4 linked regions of the Homo sapiens genome follow. The protein of the gene in region 1 purifies or fractionates together with the protein of each later gene. This does not show direct contact. Each region holds a gene or a part of one and is shown in the gene's direction. Other genes may lie near its edges.

The links.
Region 2: the proteins of CIC (region 1) and FARP1 purify together in Homo sapiens (affinity purification with mass spectrometry, with the first as the bait; one large-scale study listed by BioGRID). This does not show direct contact.
Region 3: the proteins of CIC (region 1) and LRRC47 purify together in Homo sapiens (affinity purification with mass spectrometry, with the first as the bait; one large-scale study listed by BioGRID). This does not show direct contact.
Region 4: the proteins of CIC (region 1) and ZNF592 purify together in Homo sapiens (affinity purification with mass spectrometry, with the first as the bait; one large-scale study listed by BioGRID). This does not show direct contact.

What each region holds. Positions count from the first base shown.
Region 1 is NC_000019.10:42,267,873-42,272,051, forward strand, and holds the start of CIC (protein capicua homolog), read left to right. Parts: upstream 1-1,379; 5' UTR 1,380-1,509; intron 1,510-3,044; exon of another isoform or gene 3,045-3,486; intron 3,487-3,901; 5' UTR 3,902-3,911; coding exon 3,912-4,179. UniProt on the Homo sapiens protein: Transcriptional repressor which plays a role in development of the central nervous system (CNS). In concert with ATXN1 and ATXN1L, involved in brain development.
Region 2 is NC_000013.11:98,384,094-98,387,593, forward strand, and holds part of FARP1 (FERM, ARHGEF and pleckstrin domain-containing protein 1), read left to right. Parts: intron 1-636; coding exon 637-751; intron 752-1,573; coding exon 1,574-1,721; intron 1,722-3,500. UniProt on the Homo sapiens protein: Functions as a guanine nucleotide exchange factor for RAC1. May play a role in semaphorin signaling.
Region 3 is NC_000001.11:3,782,999-3,786,498, reverse strand, and holds part of LRRC47 (leucine-rich repeat-containing protein 47), read left to right. Parts: intron 1-1,295; coding exon 1,296-1,412; intron 1,413-2,387; coding exon 2,388-2,503; intron 2,504-3,500.
Region 4 is NC_000015.10:84,779,592-84,783,091, forward strand, and holds part of ZNF592 (zinc finger protein 592), read left to right. Parts: intron 1-3,065; 5' UTR 3,066-3,084; coding exon 3,085-3,500.

The sequences.
Region 1 (4,179 bases):
CATAGATGCATTGCAGACAGGTTCACCATCTGGTTGTAAACCCGTATCTGGGCAGCAGGCATCTACTACAAACAGGGCATCTCCCTGTCCTCCTCCACTCCAGTGTGATACCCTCCTACCCCTGGGATCTTTAAAAATCTGCCTCTGTCAGGGGCGTACACCCACAAAGTGTAGCTCTCCACGTAATGCAGTGCGAAGCCCCAAGAAGCGCTGCATTTCGTCATCTCGGCCCCCTGCCCCAATGCCTAGTGGGCTGTCAAACTGCGCTGTCCTAAATGTCAAACTCTTGGAGGAGGTGACCTGTCCCCCGGGCCCCAGGCCGCGCGCGTTGCCTATACTGCAGCGCGCGACACCCCACAAGCGCGCGTTCTCTCCCCTCCCGGTGGCAACAGGGCTTTCCGCGGGGCCGCGCCAGACTTTTCGAGACCGTCAATTGGTCGTAGTCCCGGCCACCCGGCAGCCAATCAACAAGGGGAAAGGTGACATCACTGGTTCTCCTCCCCTCCCCCAATCCAAACTTCCCTACTCCGTCTACCGGCAGCAACAACCACGTGGGGGAGGGGTAAGAGAGTAGAACCGGTGAGGTCATTGCACCGCCCCGGCCGCTGCTGATTGGCTGCGGGGCTCGCGGGTGGCGGTTGGCTGCTCCTTGCACCTCCCCCTCGTGCCGCTACCGCTGCCACTGAGAGGAGCCACCGGCGACGCCAGAGCCAGGAATACGGGTGAGTCGGGGCCCTGGGTCTAAGATACTCCTGGCGTCCAGTGAGACTCACGACGAACTGCCCTTTTCGACTTTTTCTCCTCGCCGGGTTTCTTTGGTGCTCCAAGCACTCTGTCACATGGGAGTTGTAGTCTGCCTTGTACTGTCGGCTATGGGCCGAAGACGTGAGAAGACTACGGTTCCCAGCAGGAACTGCGACTAGCCGGTCAACAAACGTTCGGGCCACGCCTTCTACCTCCGTTCATTGGACAACCCGTCCCTTAGCCCCTCCTCCTTTCATTTCATTGGCTACTGTCCCTCACAGAGGCTGGGTTCCGGCCTAGGCTGCATGGCGACTGGGTACTGTATTTGTCATTTGGAACTAAGACGGCCTGCAATTGGACACGACTGGTGTCCTTCACTTGTTGTAGGGTAGGGCCCTAGGCAGATCAGGCAGTCGTAGGCTCAGGTTGGTGTCGGTCCCGGAGGGAGGCCGGTCTTGGACTTTGGCCCCGCCCCCTAGCGCTGCCCGATGGGCCCAATTGGTCGCCGCGAGCGTCGCTCGTCGTCGAGAGGCGGAGCCGACCAGTCTGCGGATATCTATTGGTCTAGGCTGGCGCCGGTCAGTGGGGTTGTGATCGCTGATTGGCTGGCTGCTCCAGCTGTTGCAGGTCCATTCACCATTTTGTGTGTTGGAGTAAAAAAAAAAGGGAGAATCGAGAGGGAGAGCCGGAGGGGGGGCGGGGAGGGACCGGACCGGACCGAGCCGGGGCCACGGCCCCCCGCCCCGAAACCCCGCCGAGCCCAAGGTGAGGGGCGGGGCCAGGGCTGACACAGGAAAGGGGGGTCCGGGGGGCTGGGGGCCGAGAGGGGACAGGTGGCAGGGACGGGGAGGGGGTACAGGGGGAAAGGGGTGGGCGGAATGGTGGGAAGGGAGGAGGGAGTGGAGGAAGTGGTGGGGGTTTGACAGAAAAAGGGTAACTGGGGGAGGGGGTGGTGGGCAAAGAAGGGTAACAGGAATGGAGGGGTGACAGGACTAGATCAGGGTGACAGGGAGAGGGAGGGGACAGAGTTGGAGAGTGTGACAAGGAGAGGTGATGGGGAGAGAAGGTGACAGGTCCGGAGATGGCTGACAGGACAGTGACTGGGAGGAATAGGTGACAGAGATAAATGGGGGTGACAAGGAGGGGGTGACAGGAGGGGGCCTAGGGCATTTTAACCGAGAGGTAGAGATAGAGGTAGTGACAGGATGAGAGAGAGAGTGTCAGAGAAGCTGGTGCCAGGAGGGCTAATGGGAACAGAGGGTATGAGACCCCAAAGAGCCAGGGCCTGGGCTGGCCTGGGCTCCGGGAGTTACTACTCAGATCTGAGGAAGGTGAGGGCCCCCGGGGCTTGGGTGGGAGTTATTCAGACAGGGTGGACAGGAAGAGAGTAGGCCCTAGGGGAAAGAAAGCAGCTCTGGGGCGAAGAGAGGCTGGGCCAGGCAGCAAGGTCTAGGGGTCCAGGCGGCATAGTTGTAGGCCCTGGGTGGGGTATGCAAAGGTTTGTGCTTGGAAAAAACTGGAGCCAGATCTCAGTCCCCAACATGGTAGTCTAGTGGGTCAGCGGGTATTAGGTGGTGATGGCTGCCCAACTTCTGGGCATTTGGGTGCCAGCCCCGGGACGCCCTCCAGGCTCTGCCTGTGAGGACCCCAGGATTGGCCCAAGAAAGGGCAGGCCTGGGACTCCAGGGTCCACAGGAGGAGCAGGCCCCTAGTGAGAGAGCATGAGGTCAAGGGTCCCCCAGTAGCTGGAAGACTGAGTCGGGGTTGCCTCTCATTGTGTTTGGCTTATGGTTCTGGGTCCCCCAACCCTCCTAGAGGCCTCTGTTTTGGCCTCTCAGGTTCTCTTAGTCACTTCAGAGTAAAGTTTTTTCCCCTTTTCTTTTCTCAGGGCAGCTCGAAAGGGGGCGGGCAGTAATGACTGTTCAGGAAGTGGGTGAGGTTGGCCTGTTGGGCTTGTCCTGCTTTCTTTGACCTTATCCCACCTATCCCCACTTGGAGTTGGAGGGCATATTTGGGGGCCTGCGGGGGGCTAGCCGACTCAGCCACCCTGCCAGAGCCAGCCCAGCCAGGGCGGGGATGCATGCAGGCAAGAAGAGGGGGGCTGGGCTTGCGGGTATCACGCTGGGTGCTGTGGGGGGAGGAGCAGGCTCCCATCCAGTGGGACAGAGAAACCCTGGGGTGTAGCTCTGTGTCCCACTGTGTGATGACGTGTGCGTGCTTCTGTGCGTGTGTGTGTGTTTGTGCGCGTGCGTGTGCTCATGCACGGCCCCGTGGCAGTGCTGGGTATGAGCTCTTGCCCCAGACATGCCCCTGCCTGCTCCCTGCCAGGATCTGGGGAGATGGCTGTACCTGGCAGCCCTAGGGTGCAGAGCAGAGTGGGCAGCCGTCCCTCGGGACTCTCAGCTGCCCACTTCTTCCCACAGTGCCTGGCCATGCCAGGCTGCCCAGAGGGGCAGAGGGAGGGTGGGGGGGTGGAGAAAGGCTCATATCACAGCCCAGTCACCACCCTTTTTGTGACTTGGTACTTGTGCATGTGTGTGTGTGTCTGAGTGCATGTACTCTCTGCATGGTGACAGTGCGAGTAAATGTGCCCTCTGGATCATGTGACAGGCAGCACACTGAAATGGTCAGGAGCACGGACTCTGGAGCCAGAGAGCCTGGGTTCAGACCCTAGCACTGCTGTTTCCCACCTGGATGATCTTGGACAAGTTGTCTCATCTTTTTGTGGCTCAGTTTCCTCAGGTGTGAAATGAGGCCGATAGTAGCACCTGCTTTTAGGGCTGTTGTGAGGATGAAACAGGTTAATAAAGGCAAGCTTAGCATGGAGTTCAGGACACAGGGAGTGCTCCATAGGTGTGAACTGTTAGTGCTTTTGATGTCCCCTTGGGGCATTCAGAGCATGTGCTCTGTGTCCTTTGCAGAGCCAGCAGGTGTCTGTTCCCCAAGGAGCCAGAGTGTGTATACTCAGGGGACTCAGGTGCTCACCTGTGCCTGGTGCTGACTGAGGTATCACATGAGTTGACAGCAGCCAGAGAGGAGGCCTTGGGGATGGTGGGATGGAGACAGTAGACTCAGCAAGTGGGAAATCTTAGGGTACACTGGCTCTGGAGAGGTTCCTGAGTTGCTCCGCGTAATCCTCCGCTCTCCCACCCTGCAGGTGGACAAAAATGAAGCCAATGAAGAAGGCATGCACTGGCCTTTCAGGTCCTGGCAGTGGCAGCAAGTCCCCCCCAGCCACCAGGGCCAAGGCTCTGAGGCGGCGAGGGGCTGGGGAGGGTGACAAGCCAGAGGAGGAGGATGACGAGGCACAGCAGCCGCAACCACAGTCCGGGCCCGAAGAGGCTGAGGAAGGGGAGGAGGAGGAGGCTGAGCGGGGCCCTGGGGCTGAAGGTCCTCCACTGGAGCTGCACCCTGGCGACCCGGCTCCAGGCCCAG
Region 2 (3,500 bases), on another chromosome or scaffold:
GTAGAATTTACTGCCAAGAACCTCCCCAGGCGGATGGGGAGAAAAGAAAAACCGGGAGCAGGTATGGCTGAAGATGGATGATTCTGAGGCTTTTTTTTTTGTAGGGGGGCGGGGGGGAACATGGAGTCTTGCTCTGTCGCCCAGGCTAGAGTGCAGTGGCACGATCTTGGCTCACTGCAACCTCCACCTCCCGGGTTCAAGCAGTTCTCCTGCCTCAGCCTCCCAGGTCGCTGGGATTACAGGTGCCCGCCACCGTACCCAGCCAATTTTTGTATTTTTGGTAGAGACGAGGTTTCGCCATGTTGCCCAGGCTGATCTCGAACTCCTGACCTCAAGTGATCCACCCGTCCTGGACTCCCAAAGTGCTGAGATTACAGGCATGAGCTACTGTGCCTGACCTTGAAGCTTCTTTCTGACTGATAGAGATGAGGAGGGGAGAAAACTGTCTTCTCACATCACCACAATTGATAAATGTATCCTGGCATCCCGTCTCTGAGATCTGGCCCTTCTGATGTTCCCCACCAACTGGGCTCACCTTATGTTGTCTGCTAGCTTCTGTTTGGCTCACTGGGGAATATTGACAAACTGGGAAGTGTCATTCCTACGTGACCTGTTTTTCTTTCTGTTTCTTTTTAGCTGAGATTGGGGATTTTGATGAAGCCTTGGACAGAGAGCACTTAGCAAAAAATAAATACATACCTCAGCAAGACGCACTAGAGGACAAAATCGTGGAATTTCACCATAACCACATGTAAGTCTCATTCTTGGCTTCATATTCCCTCTGAGCCGGTTCTCTCTGCCTCCAACCTACATGGGTGTACATCCCTCCACCCCCCACACAAACTATTGTGGAGAACAACACAAAGCGTGAGGAAAGAAGATCACAGAGGCTCATTGGGATGTGGTGATTCATCCTGGGCTCTCAGAAGCACAGGTCACCCACTGAAGCCTGGAGTTTAAGGATGCCCATGCTTTGGAACAAAAGAGAAAGTAAGAGCAAAGGACCATCCAGTCATCAAGCTAATGACAAATTGGGAAAGGGACGTGGTCACCTAGGGACAAGGTCAGAGTATCGTGAAAATCCAGAACCTTCATAGCATCTGCATTTTTGTTTTTGTTTGGATTAATATTTTCAAAGGACTCATGGTACTTTTGGTTGTTGTTTTAAGGAAGCATTGGAGCCTGACGGCCATGTGAAAAAGTGTTCTCTTGAACTTTGCTTGCAGGTTTAGGTTATTGAAAGCAACTAAAATCTTGTTTTAACCCAGTGGTGTTTTGCTTTTATATGAGCTTAAAGGAAACTCTTTGAGATTCCAAAAAAAACAAAAAAAACAAAAACTGGCTGAGTTTGGAGACTTTTGGGGTTTTATGTTCCATGAGCAGTGGAGGTTTTGTCCTAGCTGCTAGACTTTGGGTTACAGTGAATGGGAGATTGGGTGTCATCTGATCGGGTAGCCCCAGTGTTTGTGATGAAATGCCTTTGTATTTCCCAGGAGAAGCTTCTTAATCTCAAATTAATAGATACAGGGAATTCAAATCTCCTGGCCTTTCTGTTTAATTTTTGTTTTGTCAGTGGACAAACACCAGCAGAATCAGATTTCCAGCTCCTAGAGATTGCCCGTCGGCTAGAGATGTATGGAATCCGGTTGCACCCGGCCAAGGACAGGGAAGGCACGAAGATCAATCTGGCCGTTGCCAACACGGGAATTCTAGTGTTTCAGGTGAGAGCCTTGAGAACACGGCCTGGTTCCCTTGGTGACAGAGAGAGAAGAGCTGGCCCTTCAACTCTGATTCATATTCAGTGGGCTAAGACCTCTGATGGTTATTTTTCGGCGAACAAAGAAAAATTAACCTCATCTCAGGCTTTCTGTTTCCCAGGCCCTCAGCTCCCAGATTCTATTTCACTTACCTTTGCCCTGTTTGGGGAATCCACATTACAGATTTGTTTGGTTTTATTGACTTTGTAGCATCACAGAAACATGTAGCTCTCCATGGACCTACACTTAGAACACAGTCTAATGGAATCGAGATTTTAGGTCCCCGAATAAACACCTTTTTCACACTTACAGATGATACTTTGCTGTAATGTGATCCTTTTTTTTTTTTTTTTTTTTTCAAACACAGTTTGGCTTGAGCCAGCTTATTTGGTCGGGACTTCAGATATACTTAAAGAGTGTTAGGCACACTTTTAAGATACAGCAGTTTTATAAATTCATAAAAGCCACATTCTTGCAATTTTGTAGCAAAACACATACTGCACTTGAATTCTTACTTGTATTCTACTTAAAGACATAATGATTCTCTGCACTCTAAAATGTGTGCTCTATTGATCATTCTGCTATTGGACTGTTTCATTGATCAATGCTTCTCTCTTAGTAGCCTTATTGAAGTATTGTTGACGTACAATAAAGTGCACACACTTGAAGTGCATAGTTTGATAGGTTTTTATTATATATATGTATATCCTGTAAAATTCCCCACAAAACCAACAGAATGAACGTATTCATCACCCCCAAAAGGCTGTTCAGTACATTCCTTTTCAACACAAGTGGGTAACCTGTGCTTTTAGTTTCAAAGGGATATAGAGAAAGCACCCGCCTTTCTCATGAAATAGGATCAGATTTCACCCAGTTAGGAAGTTGTAAATATGTTCAGGACCTAAAACCCTTTATTGAGCTCTTCCAGGTTTGCTTATATTTCCCCCTTATCTTTTATCAAAAGAGTTCCAGTGATTCTCTATTCATGCACCAGAAGTTTATGACAGCATAATTATTACAAATCACATCCCAAGAAGAGTTAAGTTGGCTTCCTGCCAGGTAGTAGGGAGTGACATTGTGAGAGCAGTGTGGTATTCAAGGCGGATTTTTTCTTGACAGTTTTTGACCTGCACGCATAGCCTCTGAGTATCGGATAAGAGAAACAATAGGCCGGGCGCGGTCGCTCACACCTGTAATCCCAACACTTTGGGAGGCTGAGACGGGTGGATCACCTGAGGTCAGGAGTTCGAGACTAGCCTGGTCAACATGGTGAAACCCCGTCTCTACTAAAAATACAAAAATTAGCTGGGCATGATGGCGTGTACCTGTAATCCCAGCTACTTGGAAGGCTGAGGCAGGAGAATCGCTTGAATTTGGGAAGCAGAGGTTGCAGTGAGCCAAGATCATACGACTGCCCTCCAGCCTGGGTGACAGAGCAAGACTGTCTCAAAAAGAAAAACAATAAAGCCAAGTGGAGTTTTGAGTACTATCATTAAATTTCAAATCACAATCCTGAACCATTTCTAAAAAGTATTAAGAAGGAAAAGAAGTGTCTCACAATTGAATTAATGTGCTTTGATTGTGTTTGACACAATCCCTAAGTATTGGGAATACCTGGGTAATGTAGTCACGTGCAAAGCCTGTGTCTCGGAACCCACCTTCTTGCCAGTGCCCTATTGCTTCATTCTTGCCACGTTAAATGAACAGGCCTGGTGTTCCAGTGGGCTCCAGAGGAATTCTAAT
Region 3 (3,500 bases), on another chromosome or scaffold:
TTAAGGAGTCTCGCTTTGTCTCCCAGGCTGGAGTACGGTGGCGCAGTCTAATCTCACTGTAGCGTCCGCCTCCTGGGTTCAAGTGATTCTCCTGCCTCAGCCTGCTGAGTAGCTGGCATTACAGGTGCTCACCATCATGTCTGGCTAATTTTTTTGTATTTTTAAAAGAGATGAGGTTTCACCATGTTGGCCAGGTTGGTCTTGAACTCCTGACCTCAAGCAGTCCACCCGCCTTGGCCTCCCAAAGTGTGGGGATTACGGGTGTCAGCCACCACACCTGGCCTATCCTAATTTCTGGATAGCTTTATTGCAGTTGAAAATCAGGGTTCCAGCTGGTGCGGTGGCTCACGCCTGTAATCCCAGCACTTCAGGAGGCCGAGGTGGGTGCATCACCTGAGGTCAGGAGTTTGAGACCAGCCTGGACAACATGACGAAACCCCATCTCTACCGAAAACACAAAAATTAGCCAGGCGTGGTGGTGAGCACCTTTAATCCCAGCTACTGGGGAGGCCGAGGCAGGAGAATCACTTGAACCTGGGAGGTGGAGGTTGCAGTGAGCCAAGATTGCACCACCGCATTCCAGCCTGGGTGACACAGCAAGACTCCATCTCAAAAAAAAAAAAAAAGGAAAATCAGGGTTCCTTGATTTTTTGATATTTTGGTGGGTTTTCTGACTTCTGCAGTAAATCACACATTTTGTTTTATGTAAGACAGTATTAAAGTCATCAACTCTTGCCAGCACATTCTTCTGTGAATTGTTTAGGTTTTGGCAAGACTAACTTCCCAGTTGCTTTTCTGTGACACCTGACCAACTTTTAAAATATAAAGCACCTCTGTGCCCAGGGGAAAGTCTCGTGCGCCCCGCAGTGGCAGCGACAGAGCATGGCGGGCCGAGAGTGACTGTCGTGAGAGTCCTGCCTGCAGCTTGGGGAGGAAGGGAACAGGCATCACAGCCAGGGCTTTACAACTTAAAGCTCAGCCTTTATTTACATTTTAGTTCAAGATGGGTTCTTTGAAATCTCAAATATTATGTCAGAATTAGAGAAGGAAGAAAGTCTGCTGATTGATAGGTTAAGATAGTTTTCCTGATGGTGATTCCACAAAGTGAGTGCCTGGCTGGCCGGGTGGAGAGGAGTTGGAGGGGAGCCCTGTCTCGGAAAGGGGCGTGGCGTGGTTGTGAAGACCTTGGACCGGGAGGGTTTCCTGGCACACAGCCCAGCCAAGGGTGAAGTGTGGACACCTCGCTGGGCTTCAGGGCACAAGAGACCTTGCTCATCACTGCTTCTGTGTTACAGACCAAGCTCCACGAAGATCTCTGTGAGAAGAGGACGGCTGCCACCCTTGCCACCCACGAGCTCCGTGCCGTCAAAGGGCCCCTGCTGTACTGCGCCCGGCCCCCACAGGACCTCAAGGTGCTGCAGCCTCCTTTGCAGGGTCTGCTGAAGAGTCTCCTTGGTGTCGAAAGACGCCATGCTGCTACTGCAGCCCGAACTTTTTTTTTTTTTGGAGATGGAGTTCCATTGTTGCCCAGGCTGGAGTGCAGTGGCACAATCTCGGCTCACTGCAGCCTCTGCCTCCTGGGTTGAAGCGATTCTCCTGCTTCAGCCTCCCGAATAGCTGAGTTTACAGGCATGTGCCACCACGCCCAGCTAATTTTGTATTTTTAGTAGAGACGAGGTTTCTCCATGTTGGTCAGGCTGGTCTCAAACTCCAGGCCTCAGGTGATCCGCCCAACTTGGCCTCCCAAAGTGCTGGGATTACAGGCGTAAGCCACCGCACCCGGCCTGAACATTTTCTTTAGAGTAGGATCCGATGCTGTTCTTGCAAAGACATGAAATAATGAAACAGACCGCGTTTGCGGTTACTCGAAGCGGTGCACAGCTGTGAGAGGACTCGGCGGATGAGCAGTCGTTGGGAAAATGGTTTCCTTCACTCGCTCACTACCTTTTAATCAGAAATTTTGGTCTCTGTCCCGATAGTAAAACCGTTTGCGTGGGGTTGGCAGTAGGGTGAGTTGCTGTGTCGTGCTGTCCTGGGCTGTTGAATCTGTGGAGTGCACGAGGTCCCGGCTGCTCAGCCTTTCTCTCCTCTTTTGGCCTTCTGAGGATGGCAGACCTCTGGAAACAGTTGTGCATGAGCTGGCTTTAAGGTTAAGCCCTGCCTCAGTAGGATCGGTGTGTTTGGGCGTCAGGTCTCCCCGGGACGCTGCAGTGGCAGCCCACATGCAGCTTCTTGCTGCGTGGTCCCGTGGGATGCTCCCTGCCTGCTGTAGAGATGAATGAGGGCGGGAGTCGGGAGGGCTCATTGAGGCTTAAGGCCGTAATCGACACGATGGGCGAGTTCTGTGGCTGTGACCCTAGTGGAGTTTGTGGGTTTCTGCCCGATAGATTGTCCCCTTGGGGCGGAAAGAAGCCAAGGCCAAGGAGCTGGTGCGGCAGCTGCAGCTGGAGGCCGAGGAGCAGAGGAAGCAGAAGAAGCGGCAGAGTGTGTCGGGCCTGCACAGGTGGGCAGCGTGCCTGGTGGGGTGGGGCCGGGCCCGGGGGAGTGCCGCATGCTGGCCTCAGCTGAGTTAGTCTGTGCTCCTCAGGAACCGCCTAATGCTACCAGAACCCAGAAGCTTCTTAACAGGGTACAAAGAAAGCATTCTCTTTCCAAAGGAGACGTTGTGGAACCAGTCTGTCATCTAGATGGCCCTGACGTGAGGGAAGTGGAAGGTGTTAGGAGCGGAGGTATTGGCCATTCCACAGGGGGCGGGTGGCCCTCAGGATGGGACAGGACAGGATATAAACTAGCCATTAGGAAACAGACATAAATGCCAGCCCAACCCACAGCATTTTATCCATACCGTGCGCTGTTGGGTATCATCCAAGTCAGGGTCCTTGGTGCTGCTCTAAGCAAGATGATCATCCGTAACTAGCCCAGTGATTTCTGTAAACACAGGCTTCAGAATACTTTGTTCTTTGAAGCTTGTTATGCTTGGGCCCTTGATATTACACTTAATTTGTGTAAAGAACTTTTTGAGTCGTCCATTTTACCCTTTAGGTATGTTTTCAGGTGTGTGCTTTTTTTTTTTTTTTTGAGATGGGGTCTCACTCTTGTCGCCCAGGCTGGAGTGCAATGGCACGATCTTGGCTCACTGCAACCTCCACCTCCTAGGTTCAAGCGATTCTGCCGCCTCAGCCTCCCGAGTAGCTGGGATTACAGGCGCCTGCCACCATGCCTGGCTAATATTTGTGTTTTTAGTAGAGACGGGGTTTCGCCATGTTAGCCAGGCTGGTCCTGAACTCCTGACTTCAAGCAGTCTGCCTGCCTCAGCCTCCCAAACTGCTAGGATTACAGGCGTGAGCCACCACGCCCAGCTGTGCCTTTTTTCTTTTTTTTTTTTTTTAAGATGTGGTCGCGCCATGTTGCCCAGGCTGGAGTGAGGTGGCTAATCATAGGCGCAGTCCCACTACTGATCAGCACCGGAGCTTTTTGTCCTGCTCTGTTTCTGACCTGGG
Region 4 (3,500 bases), on another chromosome or scaffold:
TCCTCCTCCCTTGGCCTCCCAAAGTGCTAAGATTACAGGTGTGAGCTACTGTGCCTGACCTAAAATCTCTATAAAAGTTTTTTTTTCTGCTGCTAATATTGAGCTCTCACACTATTTACTAGCTCTGATTTTCCAGCAAAAGATACTTACTTTACTTCTGACCATTCTCAGTCAATCCCTGAGATTTCTCTATGAGGAGAGCTTTACTTCTGATCTAATCTTTCTCTGCTTCAAGCCTCTGCAACTTCATATTAGATAATAGCAGGCTCCCAGCTAATCCTTAGACACACAATCAACTTCTCCTCCTCTTCTCCCACATGCTTTTTCCAGCTCCTTAATGAGAGCTGGAAAATCTATTCTGCCCTTTCCCCTCAATCTTTTTTTCCTAGACAGTTTTGTTTTTTTTTTTTTTTGAGTTGGAGTCTTGGTCTATTGCCCAGGCTGGAGTGCAGTGGCAAGATCTCGACTCACTGCAACCTCCTCCTCCTGGGTTCAAGTGATTCTCCTGCTTCAGCCTCCCAAGTAGATGGTACTACAGGCGTGTGCCACCACACCCAACTAATTTTTGTATTTTTAGTAGAGATGAGATTTCACTATGTTGGCCAGGCTGGTCTCAAACTCCTGACCTCAGGTGATCCACCTACCTCAGCCTCCCAAAGTGCTGGGATTACAGGAGTGAGCCACTGCGCTTGGCCTTTCCTAGACATTTAGAAGAAAGAAAGAACAAAAAAGAAATTAAAAAGAAGCTTATAAAGCAAATATCATGCAGGAGTTTCCTTATAGTTATGATCACCCTGCCTAGTAGGTCACTTGGTATTGAGTGCCCACTGTTTTCAGTGACATCCAGTATGTTCCCCTTGTTTATGGGTTCCAACACCTCCTGTTCCAAGAGACAAACATTCGTTCTGTTCAAAACTTTGTATCTCATTCCAGTGGGGTATTCTGCCAACCCATGTTTAGGTAATTGGTATTGTACTTTATTATTACCATAATTAGATATCTTCCCAATGGGAGGGAGTGAGTTTTCATTTTCTGTGAGAACTCATATGCAGGCAGATGTGTTTTGCTGGGAGTTGGGAGTGGGGCAAGAAACCAAACCTGGAAACCTGTTGATCCCACGGGGTGGTAAGAGATATACCTCTGCTATGCCACCTGCTGCCTTGTGGTTCTGAGTGGGTTTTGTTGTTGTTGTTGTTGTTGTTGTTATTTTTCCTTTAAAAATTATAAAAGCAATCTATCAGCCCCCTAAAAAAGTTTTGAAAAAATAACCCAACAGTAATTCCACTAGTCTGCGTAATCATTTTCATTTTTTAAAAAATCTTGGCTCAAATGCACGCGTAGTTTTACATTGTTATAGTCTGACAACATTTTTGTATTAGTCTTTTTAAACTTGACATTATAAATAATTTTCCTTGTTGCTATATAGATTTCATAATGAGAATTTTTATTATTTATTTATTTATTTATTTATTTTGAGATGGAGTTGCTCACTCTGTCGCCCAGGCTGGGGGCAGTGGTGCGATCTCTACTCATGGCAACCTCCACCTCCTGGGATCAAGTGATTCTCCTGCCTCAGCCTCCGGAGTAGCTGGGATTAAGGCGCCCACCACCACGCCTGGCTGATTTTTGTATTTTTAGTAGAGATGGGGTTTCATCATGTTGGCCAGGCTGGTCTTGAACTCCTGACCTCAAGCTATCCACTCACCTTGGCCTTCCAAAGTGCTGGGATTATAGGCAAGAGCCACTGCGACGGGCCCTTAATGAGAATTTTTAATGACTGCGTTATAGTCTATCAAGTATTTTTTTTTTTTTTTGGTCTTAGACATTTAAATTATTTTTGTGTGTATGTCTCCCTTTTGTGCTTTTTAAATAATGCTGTAACATATACTTTTGCATGTAGTTTTTGAGAATTTTTGTTCTTAGGATAAATTTCTGGAAGTGGGGTTCCTGGACCTAAAGTTTGCCACTTTTCTGGTTCTATGAAGCTACCATACTGCTTTCTGAAAGAATTGTGCCAATCTGCATCCAGAAAGGTTTTCAACATAAATGTGACGTAAGAAACACTTAAGCCAGTAAAGGCCCTGGAATGCTGAAGCAGATGCAGGACTTAAAGGGAGATGGTGAGGTTTTTCTTCTCCCTCCAGCAGGTTTGAGCCAGCCAGTTTCATGTTTCATCTGAAGTGTGAGTTTTATAAGAATTTCCTAATGGAAGGTCTCTCTAGGGCCTTGTGTTTCCTCTGTTGCAGTAGTTCTGTAGCTCTGCTTTCCCAGATCATGAAGGAGACAAGTATATTAATTTAAAATAGAATTATTATCCTATTCTTTGTATATTAGTCAAAATAGAATTTAGGCTTCCCCCAAACTGTCACTTGGCCAATTTGATAACTGTTGGTACTTTGCAAGTCACCCTGTTCCTCAGGTTTAATGGAGGAGCATTCACCAACTGATAACAGTTTTAGGGTGAAAAGGAATCAAGTGTGTCTGCTGAACAGAGAAAAAATACCTAGGGATGATATAATTTTCTAGAGTTTATTCATGAGACAACACAAATAGCAAATCATTTTGGATTTGATTGAATTTATGCAGAAAGAAACCCCAAAGTTATATAAAGTTAGTGAGTAATTACTAAGAGTAAATTAGCAGAAGTTATAGCCAGGTTTCATGTATTAATCAGTAGTTTTCTAAAGGCTGGAAGTGCTAAGTGGCTTTTTGCTAGTGCACATGATCGTGGAGGGATGATATTCCCTGAGAAGCTGAGGGAGTATGGTAGGAGTATACTCTCTGTGGCTTTGTAATAACCAGCCACCAATTTCCAGGTACTGAGGTTTAAGATCATCCAGGCAGGCTTGTTGCTACATTTCACTACTCTTTCCATCTCTGCCCCCACCTCTCCAGCATTTTAGAAACCTGTTGGGGTAAAACTGAGGTGTGTGGCTTCCTGTCATAGTATGTGGGGTTCTGCATGGGTGTGCTGGCTGTGTGTGCATTAGTTTGATGGGTGTGTAGTGAAGATGGTCCAGTGGGACCCTGGTGGTCACTGATTCTGTTTTCTGTTTCTGTTACAGCCCTTGCCAGCATCCAGCCATGGGGGATATGAAAACCCCAGATTTTGATGACCTTCTGGCTGCCTTTGACATCCCAGACCCCACCAGCCTTGATGCCAAGGAGGCCATCCAGACACCCAGTGAGGAGAATGAGAGTCCCCTCAAACCTCCAGGCATATGTATGGATGAAAGTGTGTCCTTGTCTCACTCAGGATCAGCCCCCGATGTGCCGGCCGTGAGTGTCATTGTCAAGAACACCAGCCGCCAGGAGTCATTTGAAGCGGAGAAAGACCACATTACTCCCAGTCTCCTACACAATGGATTCCGGGGCTCAGATCTGCCTCCAGATCCCCACAACTGTGGGAAATTTGATTCTACTTTTATGAATGGAGACAGTGCCAGGAGTTTCCCTGGCAAACTGGAGCCTCCCAAGTCAGAGCCATTACCCACCTTCAA